Homo sapiens: one gene and its partner. The protein of the gene in region 1 purifies or fractionates together with the protein of each later gene. This does not show direct contact. Each region holds a gene or a part of one and is shown on either strand. Other genes may lie near its edges. The genes, in order: SLC2A2 and TRUB1.

Region 1 (12,036 bases):
CTAGAGGATCAAAGCAATTATCTAGAAATACACACAAAACTCATGTTTGGTATAAATGTCTGAACAATTAACCAAACTGTCGCAACAGCTTTTTTCATTGATTTGATCTAACACTGATATGCCTCATAGGGTCATGAGTTGAAAAAACAACTCTAAAGCTATTCCACAAGAAGAAAGATAATATTTTTCTAAACAAGTGTTAGGAAAATGAAAATATGAAAGTTTCTGTTTATGCTTATTTATGAAATTTGCCTACCTTCCAAGTGTGTCCCCAAGCCACCCACCAAAGAATGATGCAGTCATTCCACCAACTGCAAAGCTGGATACAGACAGGGACCAGAGCATGGTGATTAGTTGAGCAGCTGCCACAGTCTCTTCCTCAGCCCAAGGGGTTGGTTTTGGGTTCATTGAGTATGAGATTGTGGGCAGTTCATCTGTACTGTTGATAACATAGTTGTTGATAGCTTTTCGGTCATCCAGTGGAACACCCAAAACATGTCTATAGTGAGATATTATTACCTAGGAGATAAAGAAAAATAGCTTTACTATTTCAAACATTCTATGTATTTTTGTTTTTGTCTTTAAAGTGTTTGTTACGTGTTTAAATAGTACCATCTCAATTATGTGTTTTATATACATATAAACATGGATAGATTTGTTTACAGTTGGCCATATCCTATAAAAGAAAGGTTATAAATTACATTGCCAACAAGAACCAGGCAGGAACAAATAAATGAAGGGAACATGTAATACTTTGATGACTAGGGGACTAAAATACATTTTCTACTATTTGGGACTAATAGGGAATGGTCAGGATTGTGGAACTAGAGGAGCAAGAGGAAGCTGCAAACGTGAAACTGGTGTTGGATGACCTTTAACTTTTTAACAGAAAGTCAGAAATCTGAGTTTTTATGTAAATTTTTTCGAGTTTTAAATATTGGCAACTATTGAAATTGAAACTATTCTGCAGGCTAGGCCAGGCGCGGTGGCTCACACCTATAATCTCAGCACTTTGGGAGGCCGAGGTGGGCGGACTGCTTGAGCTCAGGAGTTTGAGACTAGGCTGGGCAACATGGTGAAACCCTGTCTCTACGAAGAATACTAAAAATTACCCAGGCATGGTGGCACATGCCTGTAGTCCCAGCTACTTGGAGGGGGCTGAAGCGGGAGGATTGCTTGAGCCTGCGAGGTTGAGGCTGCAGTGAGTCAAGATGGAGCCACTGCACTCCAGCCTGGGTGAGAAAGTAAGACCTTGTCTCAAAAAATATATATATTCTGCAGGCTAAAAAGATACATTTTCATGCTAGTGTTACTTCTGCACAGCAGGATTTAAATTGACTTATACATATTTTAACAGAATCATAAAAGTGGATATAAGAAAAAAGACTGGGAAAGTTAAGATGAGGGTCAAAAATCAAGTTAGCATACAGAATTCAAACACTAGATGGTGTATCTTTGTTGGAAGTGAGCTATAGATTTACCAGTAAACTTCCTAGCCACCAGGGCAGAGAGGAAAACAACCGGGTATATTATTGATGAATTCCTAAGATAACAATAAGTTAGTGGCCCTTGAGAAGGTATTGAGACCCAAAGGAAGTTTCTCCTGTGGGTCCTCATAGAGTTAACTGTGTAACAGAATGGACAACATTGGAAACTAAATTTCATGGAGCCATATTTTGTAATATGCTTCATATAATTCAGATGAATTATAGGACATGGGAGGAAGACGAGGCCATCTTCCTCCCATGTCATTCCTCTCAATGATGATTTGGTCACTATTTAGCATCAGTGAGCTGGGAGGGTACTCTCTGAAAAGGACCTGGAATGCAGCTGCTCTGGGTTACTAGTTATGGGCAAAGGCCTGTTTGGTAATGCCAGCTGAGGGAGGGGAAGAATTGAGCATCCTCTTATAAAAGAAGTCTGATCAAGACATTTGTCTCAGACTGGGTGCCGTAGCTCATGCCTGTAATCTAGCACTTTGGGAGGCCAAGGTGGGCAGATCACTTGAGGTCAGGAGTTCAAGACCAGCCTGGCCAACGTGGCAAAACCCTGTCTCTACTAAAGATACAATAAATTAGCCAGGCATTGTGGCTGGAGCCTGTAATCTCAGCTACTTGGGAGGCTGAGGCAAGAGAATTGCTTGAACTCAGGAGGCAGAGGTTGAAGTGAAAATCTCCAGCCTGGATGACAGAGTGAGACTTTGTCTCAAAAAACTAAAACAAAAACATTTGCCTCACTAGAAGGCTGCCTTATATGAATAATATGCATAGAAAAAAAAGCTGAAGGAAATATCCAAAATGTTCTCAGCAAATAATTATGGGTATTTTTTTTTCTAATACTGTCTTCAGTAGGCATGTGTAATTTTCATAACCATATGAAAGTGTGATTTTAAAATCCTTCCAAATAATCCCAAATGTCATTCAGCTGATTAAAAAAAGGCTTAAAAAATCATTCTTATGTAATGGTGTTTCAGCAGCTCTTTAAATACAAAAGGAAGGGCCTATATAGAGAGAGAGCACTAACCTGGACGCCAGTATGGGGATCGCTGTTTTCAGCTCTGGCTCTGGGACTTGGATTGAAGGAGGTGAAACCTTAGCCTAAGCTTCCGTCTAAGACTGGAGGGGATGGTTTAATTTTTTCTTTTTTTTTTTTTTTTTTGAGATGGAGTTTTGCTCTTGTTGCCCAGGCTGAAGTGCAATGTGCGATTGCAGCTCATCGCAACCTCTGCCTCCCGGGTTCAAGTGATTCTCTTGACTCAGCCTCCCGAGTAGCTGGGATTACAGGCATGTGCCACCACGCCCAGCTAATTTTGTATTTTTAGTAGAGACAGGGTTTCTCCATGTTGGTCAGGCTGGTCTCGAACTCCCGACCTCAGGTGATCCGCCAACCTCAGCCTCCCAAAGTGCTGGGATTACAGGAGTGAGCCACTGCGCCCGGCCAGGGATGGTTCAATTAATGATGTGATAAGGTCTTCCACAAAAAGAGAAGGGGCTCTATTAATCAAGTCATGGTGATGTTGAATGTTAAATTGTTAAATGATGTTAAATTCCAGGAAACCTGCTAAATTGGCATGTGTTGTCATCACCCACACAAAAAAGATATGACCCTTGTCTCTTGACCCCCAGCACTATGCCCTGGATCTCTCAGCCTGCCACACTCCTGATGATTGTAGCACCTAATCGGAGCACGTCTTTCAGCAGGAAGCAGCCCTTTTCAGGTGATGGATTATGGTCAGCGCATATTTCACATATCCACACCCTGCAGTATCTTTCATTTTCCTTGGGGCTCAATGTTCTAAAAGAAGCAGAGGAAATATAATGGACTTACAGAAGGCACCGAAAAAATGTTTGTACCTTCACTTTATGCCACCTCTTCCCCAGGTTCCTCTTCTCTGTCTTTCATTAATTCACCCCTCTTTATTGAGTACCTTCTTTATGCCAACTACTGTGCTTGGCACCAGTGATAGGAAGAGGAACAATTCATCAGTCTTGCCCTCAATGACCTCACAGTCTGAGTTAGAGCAGAGGGGAATGAAGTCCTGGTTCCCCGACTTATGGGCTGTGGGAGCTGAGAATAACATACCTCTCCCATGTATTCACTGAATACCAGAATAGGGATGCACGAAATATATGAGAAAAATGGTTGAAATAACTTGATTAAAAATTCACCCAAGGAGTCATCGTGGAGAAAATCCAAACTTTGTTGAGCTTCTTGAATATTATTCTAAAGTTTTACATTATTTTACTTTGGGTCACCTATGGGAGACAGGAATGGAGGGGGAAGGACCATAATCTCTTTTAGTTTAGGGCTTCTTAAGGTTTTAATGTAGACTGGAAATGGGCATAATAAGGTTGTTGAGAGGATCCAGCTGGGGAGATCATATGTTAAAGTACCTGATGCAAATAAGCAGGTGCTCAAAAAATGTCCCCTGAGTGAAACATATCCTTATTCCCTGGCACTTTTCATTCATGTATGGCTGAGATCTCTGAATGAATGTTGCAATAAGCTCTTTTTTTCTTTTTTTTTTCTAAAGTATCCTTCAGCACATGATATTCTGCCTGGAGTTTTCTGTGAGCTCAGCAAACAGCAGAGTCAGAGATTAAGAATTATTTATTGCCTCCTTTTTTTTCCCCCGTGATTGTTAATTAGGGAGTCAAGGCCAAGTTATCAGCTTTGGAACAGTGCACATCGTACCTGACAGGCCAGGATGGCCTTGTGTCTCCCACGTGGACACCCTTTATCTCTGTGTATGAGGAACATATGATATCTATCACTGACAGAACTTGCCAAAAAGAGAACTTCTACATATTTCACTTGCCTGTTGAGGTGCATTGATCACACCAATGTCATATCCAAACTGGAAGGAACCCAGCACAGCAGTGATGACAGTGAAAACCAGGGTCCCAGTGACCTGCAGGGGGCGAGACACAGGGCAGGGAAACACCAGGCAATTTTAGTTTCCCATCTTTCTGTCAGGCTGCAGCTTAAACTTCTTACAGGCTCCACAGGCTGGTTCTTTCCCCTCAATATCGATTTGCAGTATGCCCTGTGCTCCAGGCTGGCAGGTGTTGTTCATACAAGAATGTGAGCCATTCATCATTTCCCCTATGCTGCTAAAACTCAAAGAAGTTTGGGACAGCTTCTTCCAGGGGAGGAAACAAACATTCTTTTCCATATATGTGTATGAGAATAGCATACCTCTCCTGACTATTCACCGGATACCAGAATAGGGATGCATAAAATATATGAGAAAAATGATTGAAATTACTTGATTAAAAAAATCCACCCAAATAGTCCTCATGCAGAAAATCCAAACTTTGTTTTATATATATATATTTGTTGATATGTGTGTGTGTGTGTGTGTATATATATATGTGTGTGTGTGTATATATATATATATATATATATATACGTATGTATATATATATATATATATATATATACGTATGTATATATATTCAGAATCAGGACTGAGAACTAGAATAGCTGCTGACGGAAGGGAGCCGCCAAGATAGAGCCATTATATCATTGGGAGCGGTAAAATAAGATACCAGTAATAAAGAGATGGGGAGCTCTGTTGGATGTTGCCATGGTGACAAAAATACTCATATAAGAGGCATTAGCTAGCCTTTATCATGTTCCGCATCAACATCCAGGGAAGGGTACTTTTCAGGATTTGCATCTAGTTCAGCCTAGAGTTGTAGGATAAGGGCCATTATTTTCTCCCCAACTCCCCAACTCCATGTAGTTACAATGAAACTGTGTAGAAAAGGGGCAGAACATTCATCCCCTTGAACTCATATTTACATGTCTAACTATCTTAGAGAAATCACATCATGCATACGGATACTTAGTTTAGCATTTTTTTGTGCATGTGATAGCAAAATTGTAGAAAGAACCCAAATATCGTTCAATGGGAAATAGTCAAATAGATTCAGATACATCATAATACATACATCAGATACATGTAATATGCTATGCAGCAGTTAAAAGGAATAATATGATCATGTGTACTGACTTATTTTTAAGTGGCGAAGGAAGTTATGTAATCTAATGTTTTTAAAGGCTTAAACATGAGTTTGTTTGATTTAAAAAATCAAACAGTTATTTGATTTGTGCATGACGTATATAATTTATAGAATGTTTTCTTGAAGAACAAATGAGTTGATGGTCCTTGAGGAGGAATGTGAGGTTGGAGAAGGAGAGTGAAGGAAATTTTTTCTTGTATTCATATGATTAGACATTTCATAAGGAAGATATTTCATGTACATTTACATAAATTTTTAAAAAGCTTGGGATATAGTAGGAACTTTGTTGTGTAAATGAATGAGTCACATCAACATGGATTCCAGTTCTCACTCTCTTAGTAGGTATGTGACCCAAGCCACTTCCCTTATAGGAGCAGTTTTTCTCTAAATTGTGGGGTGATAGTAAATCTCCCTACCCTGGTGTAAAGCCCCAGTATAAAGAATAGCAAATTAGCCAGAACCCTTCATTACCCTGAAAAGCTAGAGATCAGAAATTTCACAAAGTATTGTCACAGAACCATCCTGGGAGCCCTTGAAATTATTTAGTCCAGTGGTTCTAAAACCAGACCCTACTTGGAGAGCCTGTTACACATGTAGCTTCTTGGAGACAGCCCCAGATCTTCTACTGGATTAGAATCTCTGGGGTGGGGATAGGGAATCTGTAGGTTTACAAAGCTTCCACCCCTTTCACTAATATAGGGGGTATCTGTCAGACTTTCCCTCCTAACACTTCTTTCTCTGAAAGAAAGGACTTCAAAGTTGACCCAAAAGACATGGTTATATGATACATATATATTGCCCAAAAGAATAATATATATGTGATATATAATATTGCATAATATGTTTATTAGATATAAATTGGCCAGGCATAGTGGCTCACACCTGTAATCCCACCACTTTGAGGGACTGAGGTGGGCAGATGGCTTGAGCCTAAGAGTTCGAGACCAGCCTGGGTAGCATAGCAAGACCTTGTCTCTACAAAAAAATACAAAGATTAGCAGGGCATGGTGGTGTATGCCTGTAGTCCCAGCTACTCAGGAGGCTGAGGTGGGAGGATTGCTTGAGCCCAGGAGGTTGCTGCTGCAGTGAGCTATGATTGCACCACCATACTCCAGCCTGGGTGACAAAGCAAGACCCTGTCTCAAAATATATATATTTATTTTATATATTTATATATCATTTACATCTGATATTTATCACTTATATATATCATTTATATCTTACATATAAGATATATTAACATTTTATGTTTATTACACGTGAATTATATATATTATACATAAAATGCATACACACACTATATGATATATGGTCTATGTGAGTATGAAAGATTTTGAATTTAAAATCTAAAATGTAACTCGACATCTAAAACTCAGTGGCTTAGATAGCCAAATCTAAGATGGAATTTTATTTACTTAGTTGGTGGTTTCTCCTCAAATCCTTTTTCCCCTCAAGCTATTTCCAAGGATAGGGATTTTCATCCTTTTTACAGGTGGTAGCCATTGTCAGAAGTGATGGGATAAGGAGTACCCTGGGAGGGCTTTAACCCACTTCCCTCATACTCTCCATCACTGAAACCAGGACAATCTCATGTGAGATGCAACACAAACAGATTCAAAGCCTAATACTACTTATGCTTACTGCATGCCTGTTCACTATGTGGATTATCTCATTTACTTCTTAAATTAGTTTTCTATTGCTGCCGTAACAAATTACCACCAGTGCAGCAGCTTAAACAACACAAATTTATTTATCTTAAAGTATAGCCAAGCATGGCAGCTCATGCCTATAGTCCCAGCGTTTGGGAGGCTGAGGCTGGAGGATTAATTGAGGCCAAGAGTTCATGACCAGCCTGGGCAGCATAGCGAGATCCCCATCTCTACAACAACATCTATAGATGGGAAGTCTGGTATAAGTATCACTGGACTAAAATCAGGTTGTTGGTAGGCTGTGTTCCTTTCTGGAGGCTGTTGGAGAAAATTTGGGTTGATGATGGAATTCAGTTCCTCTTGGTTATAGGTCTAAAGTCTGTCGTTTTGCCCTGGTTATAAATTAAGGGCCATTCCCAGCTCTAGATGCCACCAAATTTCCTTGGCTACTGGTATCTTTCTTTCCTCTTTATAGCCAGTAATGGGCAGGTCAGGTCCTTCTCATGTTACATCTCTCTGGCACTGACAAGTAGCTGGGAAAGTTCTTCCCTTTTGAGAATTCATAGGATTAGATTTGACCCATCAGGGTAATCCAGGAAAATCTCATCTCTAGGTCTATTACCTTAATCTCATCTGTAAAGTCTTTTGCCACATAAGGCAAGATATTCCCAGGTTCTGGCAATGCAGCTGTGGACTTCTTTGGAGGACGATTATTCTGTCTACCACATTCTTCATGGCAGCACCATTAATGTCCCCATTTTATAGATAACTAGATTAGTTTAACATCTCACAGTTAGTAAATTAAAGAACAATGACTTGGTTCCAGATCTTACGCTTTTAACTTCTTGGTTATTTTGCATCCCTCATTAGTCAGATACAGACATTCAAAAGCGAAGCACATCTGAAAAATCTAGGACCATAATCTTTATAAATTAAAAAAGCTAAGAGCATACATATCCACAGAATTTACCACTTGTGGGTGTTTAGCTGTTTGGCTTCAAACACACAGAAATCTCAACCACATTTTCCCACCACCTACCACACAAATCCCTTTTCCCCCACTTACCAGTAGAAACTTTTGGTGAGGTCTCTGGACAAAAGTCCAAAAAGGCAAAGCCTACTCAATTGCTCATCGGTAGCTGAGCTGAAGAGGAACCTCAGGGTCTTCCCACCACCAAGCCCAAGACCACAATATACTTTCCCAGTCTCATCCCTGCATTTTCTTTTCTTCTGTGGCACTTGGTTTATTAGTGACTGTCACCTCCTGCTTCATCCCTGGATTTCTGTTCTCTGGGGGTTCTCTCCCTGTCCCTCTACCATACAAACATATAATTTATTTCTCCTTATTTTAAGAGTCCAATCAGTAGCCATGCTAATGGTGAGCAGGGGCGACACAGAAATTGAAGTTGGGGTGATAGCGATAGCTGCAGCACATGTACTCCCCTGTCGTCTCCATTAGTTCACCCCTGTCACTTTACATACACAGCCTAAGTCACAAAGTCCCACATTACTTTGACAAAAATGAAAGCTAATTTTTAAAGATGCTGGATCTCCCATCCTATTTCTTTCCAATCAAATTGTTCTATAGTATAGAAATTCTGGAGCTGCCTCTAAGATCAGTTTCTCATTTTATTAGAATAACAAAAATAGCAACTATGAAGGAGATAGGAGAGTTTTTAAACATTTAGAAATCTTAGCGTGTTATTAAAGTCCTTATCCTCTGGCCTTCCTGGTTTCTTTTTGAGGGTTGACTGTGGTCCTGCCACCCCAGGGCCTGCAGTTCCTTATTTTAACTCCTCAAGATAGAATTTTACCAGGTTGGTCAGATAAGGAGCAATCTCATCCATTTTAAGCAGGTCATTTGAATTTCTGAGAATTTCCAACAAAAGTGATTATCCCAAATATCAAAATCTCTGAAACTGTTTAATGGCATTTCCTTTTGCTTTCTTTTTCTTTATCTTTTATTTTCAGGTTTAATTGCCCTCTCTGAACTCCATGTTAAAATGGCTCCCACTCCTTCATCTTTTCTTTCTCCAATGTTGTGAAATGAAAAGAAGTAATGTTTATAGTCAGCCTTGTATGTGGCTTGGCTCTAGACTTGGTCAAAGGAGGTTTTGTTTCTAAGGGGAAATTTCTGAACACGACCAAGTCTTAATAAGCCCCGTCAACCTTCATTCATCCACTCTAATGTCCAAGAAGTTGACACAAGAAGAAGTACATAAGTGCTACTGAAAATAGCAAGAAATTAGAGAGGATCTTAACCTGTCCAAGTTCTGAGGTTCTAGATGGTTTGCCTGTTTTCTCAACAACCCAGTAGGTAGGAATTATTATTATCATTTCACATATGGGGGAGCTCACATGGAAAGAGTAAACAGCTTGTCCAAAGTCCACATAACCTAGTAAGTGCAGAAGATCTTCAAGCCTTTTCTCCTAACTTCCTCATAGGCTATAAGGTGTTCAGCTTGCACTTTAAAAAATGCTACCTTCATTAGGAGCTTAATAACTTTAAGTTAGAGAAACTAGATTTCATATCCAATTTAAAATATGCTGCTGGATAAATGTGGAAGGGTAGAATAAGCAAATGGCTGAACTTCAACATAAAACAATGTAGTGTTTATATTGTGGCTCATAAGTCATATAGGGTCTATTAGAAAAAAACAAATAGATGTGGGAGTCAGAAAAGCTCCAAAAGAGTCCCAGCTAGGCTCCTAACGTCACTGAGCCTAAGTTTCTTTGCCTATAAAATGGGTATAAAACTAGTTAATGCATAGGATTACTGTAAAAACTAAGATAAATAATGTGGTCTTCCTATAAACAGTAAAAGGGCTACAGAACAAATGCATCTTTAATCATGTCTTTATCATCTCATTCATTTCTTTTGTCAAACAGCCATGTGTCAACTTTTCATACTTTACCGATACTCTTTGCAATACCACAAAGTACATGAAATTATTCCTATTTTAGAGGTGAGGAAGCCAGGGATCAGAGAGGATTAAGGAGCATACCTAACACTACACAGCTGGTGACAGATACTCTAGTGTGGGAACCGAGAGCTGATGGTCTTAAACGCCACTGCTAACCTGAAGAGCAGATTTTTCCAGCAATTACTGATTGACTAGGTAGGGAGGAGAAGCTTATACCCTTTTCTTTAAACTACATGTCTCCAAAACCTAAACCAAAGGTGATCTTGCATGCAACTTTGGAAAAAGCCAGGGGCTTATCAAGTCACAGAATTTTTAAGTTGAAAGAGACCTTAGAGAACAATGGATTCTTGTCTAATTCCTCCATTCTTCAGTTGTAGAAACTGAGGTCTCACAGGCCAAGTTGTTTATGTCATTTGTCTGATTTCTGTGAGCATTTTGGGCATATTCAGTGTGACAACTCAGGTCTCTTGACCCCAGTTCCTTGCTTATCCTACTTCTTTCAAAGTCTGGATAGATTCACAAAGCTGAAAAACATTGCACTACCTCAGTTCTCATTCTTTCTGGGTTCCATTGTTAGGCAGTTCCTTGGTTATCAAGAAAAGATCTACAACGTAATTTCAAAAGCCCCTAAGAAAATTAATGATAGTTTTGAATGAATCTTGAACATCTGCGATGTGCCAGACACTATGTTAAGCACATTACCTTCCTTTTTGCAGTAGCTTTCAAACTTTAGTTATTTGATTACTACCTTCATGAATTTTGCCAAATCTACATACCATCTATGTAGTTGTTAACTTAATGTTTGTCTTTATATTGACCTTAAAGTTCTAACTACTTTAGCTTTATCCTGGGCTATAATACTCATGAAATCATGATGTGCTAATTATTCTTTAAATACATACTATATAAATGCTATATAAATAGCATTTTATATTTAACTTTAAATATCAAACATATAAATGGTGCTTATATAATATGTATTTAAAGTGTTTATACATTATAATATAATTTATCTTTTATAATTTATAAATACTATTTAAATATGTATTTAACACTATTAATAATTATATAACTATTAACATTAAAATTGTTGTCTAAGCCTCTCTAATATAATCTCATTTAATTACTCCCTAACTCTAAAGTACTAGTATAATCCCTGAATATCCCATATTATATCACTGAGCCCAAGTTTCTTTGCCTATAAAGGGTATATTGTATCCTAATATGTTTTTGTTTTCTCACAATAGAGAAAACCCAAAGCTCAGTTAAATAACTTAACCCAGGCCTCACAGCAGTTTAGTGGCATTGCTAGAACCCAGATCCAAGTCTGGCTGACTCCAAAGCCAGTGCAGCTAACCATGCCATCTAATGACATGAAGGAATGTTCAGCAGAGTAAGTTGCACCAGATGAGAACTTAAAGGTGAGACCCTACAGGGCACAGATTGATCAACTTATATGATTGTGTGTACAGGGGTGGGTGAGTTTAGAAACCACGTATAAGGGAGCAAGGACACTATATCCTTTATATTTTTAAGTTTTTTTTTAAAGTATCATATCTAGAGAGAAGTTGAAACAGTAGTGAAGTGATCATTCCATAACCTTCGCCTTTATTCACCACTGGTTAACATTCACCAATTTGTTGATCTCTCGCTCTGTAGTGTTTGTGTGTGTGTGTTGTTTTGGCTGAACCATTTACAAATAAGCTGTAGATATTTGTGTCATTTCACCCCTAAATACTTTAGCATGTACAAAGAACAAAGACATCCTCCTACATAATTAGATACCATTATTATATCCAAGAGTGTGAAATTGATACAGTAATATTATTTAAGATGCAGCCCATATTTAAAATTTCCCAACGTCTCCATAGTTCCCTTATTGCTATTTTTTTCTTCCTTCCACAATCTAAATCATTTGTTGCATTTGGTTGTCAG
Region 2 (12,036 bases), on another chromosome or scaffold:
ACTATGAATGTCCAAAGTATTCTCCTAAGTGCTAGGGAAGGATACACAGATACATAAGATAGATTGCTCTCCCTCTAAGAGGTTACAGTGTAACAGGAAAACTTCAATAAACACAACTACTGCAGAGAGGACTGGATATAATGGCAACAACAGACATGTCTGGTTTATCTCACTGAGCTCTCATATCACACATATCACACATCTTAGCACATGATGACCTACAGAGATATTCACTGTTTTCCAAGTATACTTTATTGATCCTTACTTTCTGCAAGTATGAACTCTCAGCTAGAGTTTCCCATTGCTCATCTATTGTGTTCTTTCCTAAATAGAAACACAGTAGCAGCTTAATAAAAAGTTGCTGACAGAATGATACACATGCTAGAGAAGTGCCTATGTGTGCAATTCTTCACATTTCACCATAGTTTTGAATATCTAGATTTCATCTGCTAAGTCTCAACCCACTCCAGGGTCTGCAATTATATTGTATGTAGCTACGTGCTGGATTCTTTTTAGGGGAGACAATATCTAAATCAACATTCTCAAATCAAATCAAATCAAAATGTTCTCAAACATTTTGCTTTCAGAACTCCTATACACACTTAAAACTTATTGAGAAACCCTGGCACACATTTTTTAAAAACATGTTATATCTGCCTAGATTTATTGTATTAGAAATTAAAGCTGAAAAATGTTTAAAACTTCCATTAGCCATCAGAGCAATGATGTCATTGCACATCTAGTAATCTCTGAAAAACTCTACCATGTATTTGTGGGATTGCAAGTTAAAAAGGCAAAACTATGAAAATAGTTTCAATTTCAACAGACACCCTGAAAGAGTCTCAGGAGTCCTTAGACCACACCCTGCGAACCGATGATTGAAATCAGCTGTCTCCTAGCTTTCCCTTGTCCTGGCATCTAGTTATAATTATCCTTCAATTTTATTCAATTATCCACAAACCATTTAGAAAAATTCACCCACACAGTTAAGCCTTCAGCTGAAACAAAGCCTCACGACCAAAAAGATATTGGGATAGAAGAAAAAAGACATGGAGATACACACATTCAACCCTAACATTTTATCTTATGGAGTCTAAAATATTTCTTTTCACTGGCTTAAATTCTACGTAGAGTCTGTGCTTTGGAGTTGTTAATTCTCCAAGACGTATACCTGGGAACCGTGAATTCTACTACTGTATTCATTACAATGTAATTCTACTGCAACAAAAGAGAGGTCCTGAAGAACATTCCATTGACCTGTGTACTCTCTGGGACTCACAGTTTCTCACTGGTATTATTCTACTCTCTACTTTACTCATCGTCAAGCTCCCTAAACCCCACAGCAGGTATTAGCTAGACATCTCTAGCAGCAAATCAGCTTCTGTTCTGTTTAGGAGAAAGAAAAATGTTTCTACTACAGAAAGTATACACACAATCATTTCCTTGGATCTCAACTGAGGTGTGATTTTGAAAGCTTGTGATTTAAACCTTCACAAACAAAATAGGGATATTACTGAGGATGAGAAAGAACACTTTTTAAAAAACCTATCAAACCAAAAACATGTGGCTTTGAATGTCTTCATTAAGAAGGAACAGTCCTTTTTTATAGTTCATAAGTATAAGCCCTTTAAAATTTTCAATACAGTATTTATGAAATATATGAAAATTAATAGCGTATATAGAAAAGGTACAAACTGGACTAGCCTCTGGAGAAAACTGATTAGAAATGCTGAAATCTTCAAGAGTTGGCTAAGTTTCATAGGAGCATTACTCAAGCCACACTTTAGAGTTCTCATAACTGGTTAACCTAAAAATGTTACTGTGTTCTTGGGGAAAGTTACTATCCTTTGACCACACCAAGAAGGGGAAACTTCATTCACTCCAATGATGACACTTGTTTAACTACTGGAGGGGGATACAAAGTTGCCTTCTGAGGAGATGCTGGCTTTGCCTGCAGGTGCCACTATGGTTTACCTGCACAGAGATATGGAGGTACCTTTATATCTGGACATGCTAGTTAGATTATTCAGGTTTTCATAACCTTTCCATCTGGTTTCTAAAGCATTTATAAAGTAACCAACTTTGATCAACAATATAGAAAACTAATAAAGACAGCACTCCAAAACCTCATCTGTTTTCTTCTGTTCCTTCTGTCTGTTCCTTCAAAGTACGACATCTGCTATCCAGCTTTTGCTGAATGACTGGCTCAAAGAAAGTGTAATTTAGGGAAGATATAAGAGGGGCTATTTGCCCTCCTCTAGGTAAGCAACGTTTTATACTTAGATCAACTTAGGCCAAAGGAACACATCAGCCTAACCTCTCAGAATTTTACCTAAACTGTATTTTATGTAGCTCCATTTCTACATCTGTTGTAAAACTATTTTTGAAAATCACCATCTATCTGTCATTTAATATCTCTTATTGTCAGAAACTTCTTTCTGGCTTTAATGTCCAAGGAAAGTCTGTCTCTCCCTTAAAGAACTGGCATGCTTTCTCTTTCTGATGAGTGCAATATTTTGCCTACATCACCAGCAATCACAGATAGCCATGAAAAAAAAAAAAGAAATTAACTGTATTCAAGAGTTCCAACAGAACTTGCCTGAGTAAAATTAATTTCAGGTGTCTACAGAACATGTGGCTAGAAAGCTCCAACAGGCCTGGACCTCAAGAGAGAGACTTGGGGATAAGTAAAATACTTGGGAATAGTAATAACAGTATTTAATGAGCAATTTCCATACACAAGGCACTGTACAAAAAGTTCACATGCTTTTCACACACATTATACACATAATCCTAAATGATCAGGCACAGGGAAAAAAAAAAAGACTTGAGAAATATGATCACTGGCAGAACAAAGCTCACTCCAAGGCAGGAGAGGAAGACAATGAGGAACACAGAGCAGTGGCTCTTTTCTTAACTTTTACCCTGATCTGAATGGGAGGAAATGCAAGAAATGATTTGGGTGGTCTGATTAGTGTCTAGTCTTCACAGATGGAAGCAAAATAATGTGATGGCCTAAAGATTTTACTTAAAAGCCAGAATTTCATCTAGTAAGTGACAGTAGTTGTATGAAGTGGCACCATGTTGAAGAAGATTCTAAGGGTGTTTCTTGATTCAGCAAGAAGAAATGTTAGGCCATGTTCAATTAGCAATATCTCCAATTACGACTGGCTAGGGAGAGAAGGCTGTTCTGTAATATGGCTGTAACAAGAACACTGAATATTTGCCATCCTAGAACTAAATATTTCTACTCTTGACGTAACTCCATCCTACACATACCAGAAGTCTAATTTTTCTAGTTGCACTGTGATGCAAATAAAAATTCATCTGTCAAAATAGGAAGTGAAGAAAAAGTGGACATTAGATCTGGGCCAAGTTAGGGGGCTGCAGCCACATTTTTTTTTTTAATGAAATAGAAGGAAAAGTATCAAGAATACATCATACATAGGGTTAGAGTTGGATAAAGTTTGGATGTCTGCCCCCTCCAAATCTCATGTTGAAATATAATCCCCAGTGTTGGAGGTGGGGCATGGTGGGAATTGTCTGGGTTATGAGGGCGGATCCTGCATTAATTGCTTGGTGCCCTCCCTGCAATGAGTTCACGCGAGATCTGGCTGTTTAAAAGAGCCTGGCACCTCCGCCTCTCTCTCTGTCACTCCCTCTCTCACCATGCGACATGGCCACAAGTGTAAGCTTCCAGAGGCCCTCACCAGAAGCAGATACCAGTACCTTGTTTCTTGTACAGACTTCAGAACCATGAGCCAAATGAACCTCTTTTCTTTATAAATTACCCAGCCTCGACTACTCCTTTACAGCAACACAAACAGACTAACACAAAGTTGTTTGATAAAATTTTTCCTTTTCATAAATGTATGTATCTATATGGTCATTACATAAAATATGTTTCTTACTATGGGTCTTAGTCAAAAAAATTTTGAAAGTCACTAGATAAGATGATCTCTAAGATTCCTTCTAGTGCTTTTAAAAAAAGAAAAAATATTTATTAACAGTTTTTAACTACTTTTTATTAAAAAATAATCTTCAACATTAAACTCTTAATGATTTAGTTCTTTTAACAGGTACATAAAATTAAAAGGATAAGAAATATAAATAGCTAACAAGACAACGATGCCTATTTTTGAAATACCTAAGAACTAGGTTTCTGTAACAAGACGTGCCTGTGGTATTCTATTTATGTTACAGTCATTTTGAGGATCAGTGATTTCACTGTATGACATTCAGCTTTCGTAGCTGAACAGCAAATTGGCTGTTACAAAATTTATACCAGAGTCAATGATGTATTTACATTTTCAGTCATAATATTTCTGAAAATATGCCTGAAATTTACAAGTAAAATCTTTCAGTAATATATAGTGTGCTGTGTTTGTGGTTTGGGGGAGGAGGGGTGAACAACGAATATCTCAATGAACTCAACATATTTTATCTTGGTAAAAAAACCCAAACAAATTCCTTAACGTAAATATATCTTTTTTATTATTAACATAAAAGTGACTTGTTTATTGTATAGATTTTAGAAAATACCAAATAATGTGAAAAAAAAATCATCCATAATCCCATATTAAAGTAAACATTGTTCATCTTTGGGAGTTCAGAAACAAATATTAAACAACTGGCAAAAACCAGTATCAGAAACAGATTCTAAACTCTATGTGTCAGTAAGCACAGTATAAAAATTTACTGAGAAACTGTCAAACACCTTCATTCTAATGCAATTTTTATACTCTGTAATTTTTCAACACCAATATTTTGAAGATTACAGAGCAAGCCACACTGAAGCTTTTCATTTATCAGAGGCACTAAGATTCCTTCCAATTGAATGGCACAGATTTTTATGCCAGTTGATAACCAAAATGAGACATCACATGCAATATGTTCTCCGAGGCTTTTTAAAATCAATCGATCAATCAATCAATCAATCTATGTATCTATGTATCTATCTACCTACCTACCTACCTACCTATCTACCTATCTACCTACCTACCTACCTACCTTACTTATTATTTATTGAGATGGAGTCATCTCACTCTGTCACCCACGCTGGCGTGCAATGGCGTGATCTTGGCTCACTGCAACCTCCGCCTCCTGGGTTCAAGTGATTCTCCTGCCTCAGTCTACCGAGTAGCTGGTATTAAAGGTGTATAGCACCACGCCTGGATACTTTTTTTGGTATTTTTAACAGAGATGGGTTTCACCATGTTGGCCAGGCTGGTCTCGAAATCCTGACCTCAAGTGATCTGCCCGCCTCGGCCTTCCAAAGTATTAGGATTACAGGCATGAGACACCACGCTCGGTCAGGGCTTTTATTTTAATACTTAAACCACTACTACGTCAAGTGTTTTCCACAGGCCAGTTATCTATAATAAGTTCAGAAAATGAGATTGCGTAGAAACTTATTTAGCAATTTTACATTGCCGTATTTTAATTATATTTTACAAAAGTCATCAATCAGTCTGCAATGAACTGGAAATTGTTTTTTAAATGGTCTTTGACAACAGATTTTTTTAAAGAAACAAAAATCATTTTATCAACAATTTATATCACATTTAGAGCAAGAGTTTTAAAACAAAGTTTATTCCAGGAACATAATGAAATTTTTCGCTACCTCTTGGCATACTAAGCTTCCTTCCACGTGCATTTTCATTGACCCTTAGTCCCAGCACTTATAACCAGCACCTAATTACTCATTAGGATACAGATATTACTCTCTCTTTGAGAGATGGAAGAGACCCCTTCTACCAGCAGTTCACAGCTTTCCAGCCTCTCCTGCCTCCAAATAACCCCTTCTCTCTTCTATCAAGTGCCTGGAAAAGTGCTTTTGGATCTATTCAAGGTTACTCTCATATATGAACATACTTTATCATCTTAAAGAGGCCCTACTCTTTTCTTTAATAAACATTTATAACCATTGAACAAAGCATATTTTTGCTCAAAGGGCACAGTTTACAAAATGGTATTGTTTCTATAAAAATTCCAAGGTTTAAAAAAGTCTGTCACTAGAGTTTATGACCTCTAAGTCCCAATCATCTAAGAAATATGATGTTTTAAAAGTCTAAATATAATTTTGTTAAATGATGAGCACTGTAGCATTGTTTCTTTAAGTCTAATTGGTTTTTCAATTAAGAATTTCCAATTTTCAGTCTCGATATTTTCAATCTCAGATATGTTTATAGACATAATTAATACTCAGGAATGATACCCATTCATGCAGTTTACTCAGTTTATTTTTTATTTGATAAAAACCCAATACATGTAGATCATTAAGAACATTAAAGAAAAATAGAACTATTTCAGTATTCTTACCTTGGACCCTGACAACATACTGGTCAACATTTTTGTTCCGCTTCCAATTCCAACAACTACAAATCAAAGAAAGAAATATTATGACACTCTGTTCTGAAAACTAGGTTTTTAAAATAGCTATATTTTTTGGTCATAATTTCCCAGCTTAGGTAATGTGAAGTGGGAAAGAACAGATATTTAGCAAAATGTTAGGGCTCCTATTACTCCAAACAGTTGAACTTGTCATGCAACTAAGAAATTCTAAAGAAGGGACAAGAGAAGACCTTTCTCCCCATTCTCAAAGTATTAAACTCAGTAGAAACCTTAACCCAGCCAATTAGACAATGAAGCCTTAGAACAATCTCAAAGGACGCACTGGAATTTTATATGGGCACCAGTGAAAAACACACGGCACAATTAACCATGTTCAAGTGGGTATGATAAAGTCTTTTGACAGAATTCATTATTAAACAAAGCAAAAGCCATTATCACAGCTAATGAACCATTTAAAGATGATTAGCACCCAGCAGTATATACAATCAAGAAAAGAGAAACATAACAAATCAGTCTAACACAAAGAATACAAGGTAAAATGAAGGCTGAAGAATGTATTTACAGAGCCCAAAGTACAACAATGGCCTACCTTTCTCTTAAATTTCAAACATTATTCATACGTCAACACATTTCACTTGGTGAGGGTGAGAGGATTTAGTCACTTCTCTTTTTGTTAAGAAGCCACATTTTTGTAAGTATAGAAATATTTGTCATCAACAGATATAACTGTGCATAAGAACACAATACAATCACCACAATTCAGAATTATAAGAGTAAACAAGGACTACTGATTGGCAAACTAGAAAAAATATCTCCAATATTTACAGCAAATACCATTCAGTGAGTTTACCATGTATCAGATTCTACTCTAAATGCTCTCCTTTCATTATCCCATTTAATCCTTATAACAACTTTAAAAGGCCAGGTGTGTTGGCTCACGCCTGTAATCCCAGCATTTTGGGAGGTTGAGGCGGGCGGATCACCTGAGGTCACGAGTTCAAGACCCACCTGACCAACATGGAGAAACCCCGTCTCTACTAAAAATACAAAATTAGCCAGGTATGGTGGCGCATGCCTGTAATCCCAGCTACTTGGGAGGCTAAGGCAGGAGAATCGCTTGAACCCAAGAGGCAGAGGTTGCGGTGAGCCAAGATCACACCATTGCACTCCAGCCTGGGTGACAAGAGCAAAACTCTGTCTCAAAAAAAAAAAAAAAAAAACTTTAAAAGATAGTATAATTACCCCTGTTGATAGATGAGGAAACAGGAATAAGAGACTAAGAACTTTGTCCAGCATCTCACAACCAGTACCTGGTAGAGTTAAGATTCAAACCAAATGGTCTAAGAACAGACCCCCCTTCCTTTCCATTCCCTCTGCCACCTTAACTCACCTAGGCTTTCTCCTCACTGCAACCAGCCTACATCCCTGCAAACCTGACGGTTCTACATCCTATCCCTTCCTCTTCCAATTCATACCACTTCATAACCATTTCTGAAACCCTATTTTTCACATTACAAAGCCCCCCAAACAATCCTTAGTAGGGTCCCAGTGCCTACAGCACCAACTCCTTATTAAAGTATTCAAAGTCAATCCTTTGAAGCCCAGCTCAAGCCCCAACTCATTCATAAAGTCTATTCCAACCTCCTCAAAACCTCTATGACACTCATCTGTATTGTCCTTCTAAGTCATATAGTTCAAGGTCTAAGATCAAAAACAGTCTGTCCTCAGTAATCCTCTGAAGAGCATAATACTCTTCAAATGACAGAACTTGTAGATACTGCTGCTGATGAGGCAAACAGGAAAGATTCAATGCGACTTGATTCCATTCAAATAAATCTCCAATCAATTTTTCTTGAACAACTACTATGCACATAATCCCAAGAGGAATACTTCCAATGGAAAAACAAAGAAACCTGTGACACATTTCCTAACTCTGAAACAGCTTATAATCTCATCAGGAAAATAAAATACAGAAAAATCACAGTGCTCAAGAAATGTTGCCTAATGAGTGAATAATGCTAAATAACAATATGATAGTATATGATTAAGTGTCAAATGAACAGAGAGAGAACCGCTGCCAAAGCAGGGCAAAGGTGGGAGCATCCTAAACGGCTAAAGAGGCCGGAGAATGCTTCATTCAAGCATTTCGGAGTTTGTATTAGGCCTTTGAAGGATGTATAGGGAACACAACAGAGAGAAGAGAAGCATGTTCTAAAAAAGAAAATAATTGCACAAACTCTCAGATACAAGGATGAGAACAGTAGGTTTATCAACTGAACACAGGGTGTCTTAGAAGCAGACTGACATGTTTGACTTTAACATGGCTGAAATACTGAACTCATGATGGTTTCTGAGCTAGTTTAGTGACCCAGAAGGATAAAATTTAAAAGAAGCCATCTTAGAGTTACCCAGCTTAATCCTCTCATTTTAACCTAAGAATAACCAAATGCCATTGAAGTGAGGTGATTAGTGAAAGCAGAATTTTAGGAAGACTAATATGGTGGTGGCATATAGAAAAATTATCTGGAGTTGGGACCTAGCCAACCAGCAGCTTTTCATTCACAGGTTAGTTTCCCGGACAGAATTTTTACTCGGCATTTTTTCCCTTCAATCATTCAAAATTGTATCCAGTACTTATTGTGTAGGTACAGAAATAAATAAGACCTGGCTTCAGCTGTGATTTAACAATATAATAGGGAGACAGATATTAACAAAAACTAAAAGAACAAAATGAAATTTTACATTAGCAGTATAGAAGAGCAGCAGGCAGGCTTCAAAGGTAGGAAATGGCATTTCAGCTGAACCTGGAAAGGTCAGTAGGACTTCTACAACCAAAGGTGCTGAGAGAGATGAGCAGCTTATAAAAGAAAAACATGAGCAAAGGCACCACATTTGAAAAGGTGTGGAGAATTTAGAGAGCAGATGAATAACGGGGTTTTCCATGCACTGTTGCACAATTACTACTCTCCTACTCTATCTCCCAAGTGTTCTGTGCTCACTCAAATGTCTTTTCCGTTAAAAAAACAAAAACAAAAATAACTATCTCCAAACTTATCCAATGTCCTAGTATCCCATTCTCAAATCAAAAAGATAGAATTTGTTTATGATGAGAGTCTCTTTAGGACAGGCATGGACTCTATACATGTATTTCCAGCTTTCTGTAGGATCATCTTACAAGACCTGTATCTTTCCAATCGTAGGAATCTATTTTAAGAATCTGAAACATCTGGCTGATACAGATGTGTGGGTAAAAACTAAAAACAAAACAAACAAAAAGTTCTATCTATAAAGACATCTCTCACAAAATCAGTTCTGACAAAACTCTGGTGATAACCTCAGTGACCTCAAATAGGGAAATGGTTAATAAATGGTATTTTAGCCATATGATGGAACATTTTATAGCCATTAAAAATAAAGTTTACAAAGAGCTTATCAACATGAACAATGTTTATGTTACAATGTTAAGTTTAAAAAAATGGATATATAAGTATACACAGTGAAGTAGATCTCAACTTTAAAAATCTGCATAGACAAAAAGCTACAAGGAAATATGGCAAAAATGTTAACTGACTATTGATGAAAGGTGGAAAATGGATAATTTTTTATTTGCAACTTTCTTGTATTTTCTAAATTTTCTCACTGTTTCTATAACCTCTAAAGTTAAAAAAATTTTTTTGAAATGGTATATAGAAATTTTATTTACATTTTAAGTGATTTATGATAAATAGGTGTATTCCTTTCCTATTGCTACTGTTAACAAATTACCAATCTGTCTTAAAACAATACAAACTTTTTATCACATAGTTGGGGAGGTGAGAAGCCTGAAACAGGTTTAACTAGGCTTAAAATCAAAGGGTTGGCTTGACCGTGTTCTTCTCTGGAGGTGCTAGGGGAGAATCCTTCACTAGAGCCTCCGTAGAGGACCTTTTTTTTTTTGCCTCCTCCAGCTTTTAGAGGCTGCCCCCATTCTTTGGCTTGTGATCCCCTTCACTCTTCAAAGCCAGCAACCACATTACTCCAACCTCTGCTTCCACTGCCACATCTCCTCTGACTCTCTCTTCTGCCTCCTCTTCCACTTTTAAAGAATATTGTGATTACATTGGGTCCACTTGGAAATTCCAGGATAATCTATCTTAAAGTCAGCTGATTAGCAACATCAATTCCATCTACAACCCTAATGTTCCTTGTGATGTAACCTAATATATTCACAGGTTATGGAAATTAGGACACAGACACCTTTAGAGGGCCATTATTTTGCCTACCACGTATTTTTGAGAAACTTGTGAACCCTCTAGCAATTATGCTATAGAATTATAAACCTGAATTTCAGGTTATAATCTTAAATTGTCAGCTAAATTCTTAATCTGCACCATTAATATTGCAAAAAAAAATGTTGAAAGTAAAAGTATATTTTTTTTGCATAGGTCCAGTTTTAGTTTTGTTTGTTTGTTTGTTTGTTTCAAAAAAGACCTTTTGGCCGGGCATGGTGGCTCACACCTGTAATCCCAGCACTTTGGGAGGCAGAGGTGGGCAGATCACTTGAGATCAGGAGTCCAACACCACCCTGGTCAACATGATGAAACCCTGACTCTACTAAAAATACAAAAATTAGCAGGGCATGGTGGCAGTCGCCTATAATCCCAGCTAGTCAGGAGGCTGAAGCAGGAGAATCAGTTGAATTTGGGAGGTGGAGGTTGCAGTGAGCTGAGATCACGCCACCGCACTCAAGCCTGGACAACAAGAGCAAGACTCATCTCAAAAAAATAAATAAATAAAAATAAAAAAGACCTGTATACAGCACTTCACAGGATAAAGTATATATCTATATACTATAGGTATTTTGTAAAATATTTTTGAAAACCTTTTGACTTAGTTTTGGTAGACGTTATCTTCTTTTAAGAGATGAAGACACGTTCAGTGAAGTTACGAGATTTTCTTAGGATGTATACAGTTAGTAACTAAAGCAGCCAGTAGCCAGTGTACAAACCGAAGTATGATTAGAGTTCAGTGTTTATTTTATCACACAATCAAAAATCGACTTCTCATAAGTTTCCAGAACTGCTAACTTGGACAACAAACATCCCTTACTCTGTGACTAAACACCTACAATTTTTTAAACTTTCTCTCTCCTCGGAAATCACATGCATTAAAAGAAAAATTAATACATCTGACATATGAACATATTATATCATCATAAAATTCCCTGTGTGATCAAATATAAATTGAGCCTCCAACCAGAAAACTGTTTCCAATACAATTTCTTCCACGCATACAAATCTCAGCCCCTTCACAATACTAAAATGGAAGCTTCAACAAGATCCCTTAGGCCAAGAGTGTCCAATCTTTTGGCTTCCCTGGGTCACAATGAAAGAAGAATTGTCTTGGGCCACACACATAATACACTAACGATAGCTGATGAGCTTAAAAAAAATAAAAATCACAAAAAAACTCATGATGTTTTAAGAAAGTTTACAGATTTGTGTAGGGCTGCATTCAAAGCTGCCCTAGGCCACGTGCAGCCCACAGGCCAAAGGTTGGACAAGCTAGCCTTAGGTTCAGGGTAAAAACTAAACTTTCATTCACTGCCTTGAATATCACTATTTTCTGCATGCCAATGAAGAACCGCCACCCGAAATTAATAGAATTGATCTATTCGTAAACAAGCAACTGATCTGATCCTCT

The links.
Region 2: the proteins of SLC2A2 (region 1) and TRUB1 purify together in Homo sapiens (affinity purification with mass spectrometry; 2 studies listed by BioGRID and IntAct, with this or other methods). This does not show direct contact.

Annotation. Positions count from the first base shown.
Region 1 is NC_000003.12:171,014,213-171,026,248, forward strand, and holds part of SLC2A2 (solute carrier family 2, facilitated glucose transporter member 2), read right to left. Parts: intron 4,412-12,036; coding exon 4,319-4,411; intron 4,244-4,318; coding exon of another isoform or gene 4,195-4,243; intron 520-4,194; coding exon 257-519; intron 1-256.
Region 2 is NC_000010.11:114,945,435-114,957,470, reverse strand, and holds part of TRUB1 (pseudouridylate synthase TRUB1), read right to left. Parts: intron 6,378-12,036; coding exon 6,322-6,377; intron 1-6,321. UniProt on the Homo sapiens protein: Pseudouridine synthase that catalyzes pseudouridylation of mRNAs and tRNAs. Mediates pseudouridylation of mRNAs with the consensus sequence 5'-GUUCNANNC-3', harboring a stem-loop structure. Constitutes the major pseudouridine synthase acting on mRNAs.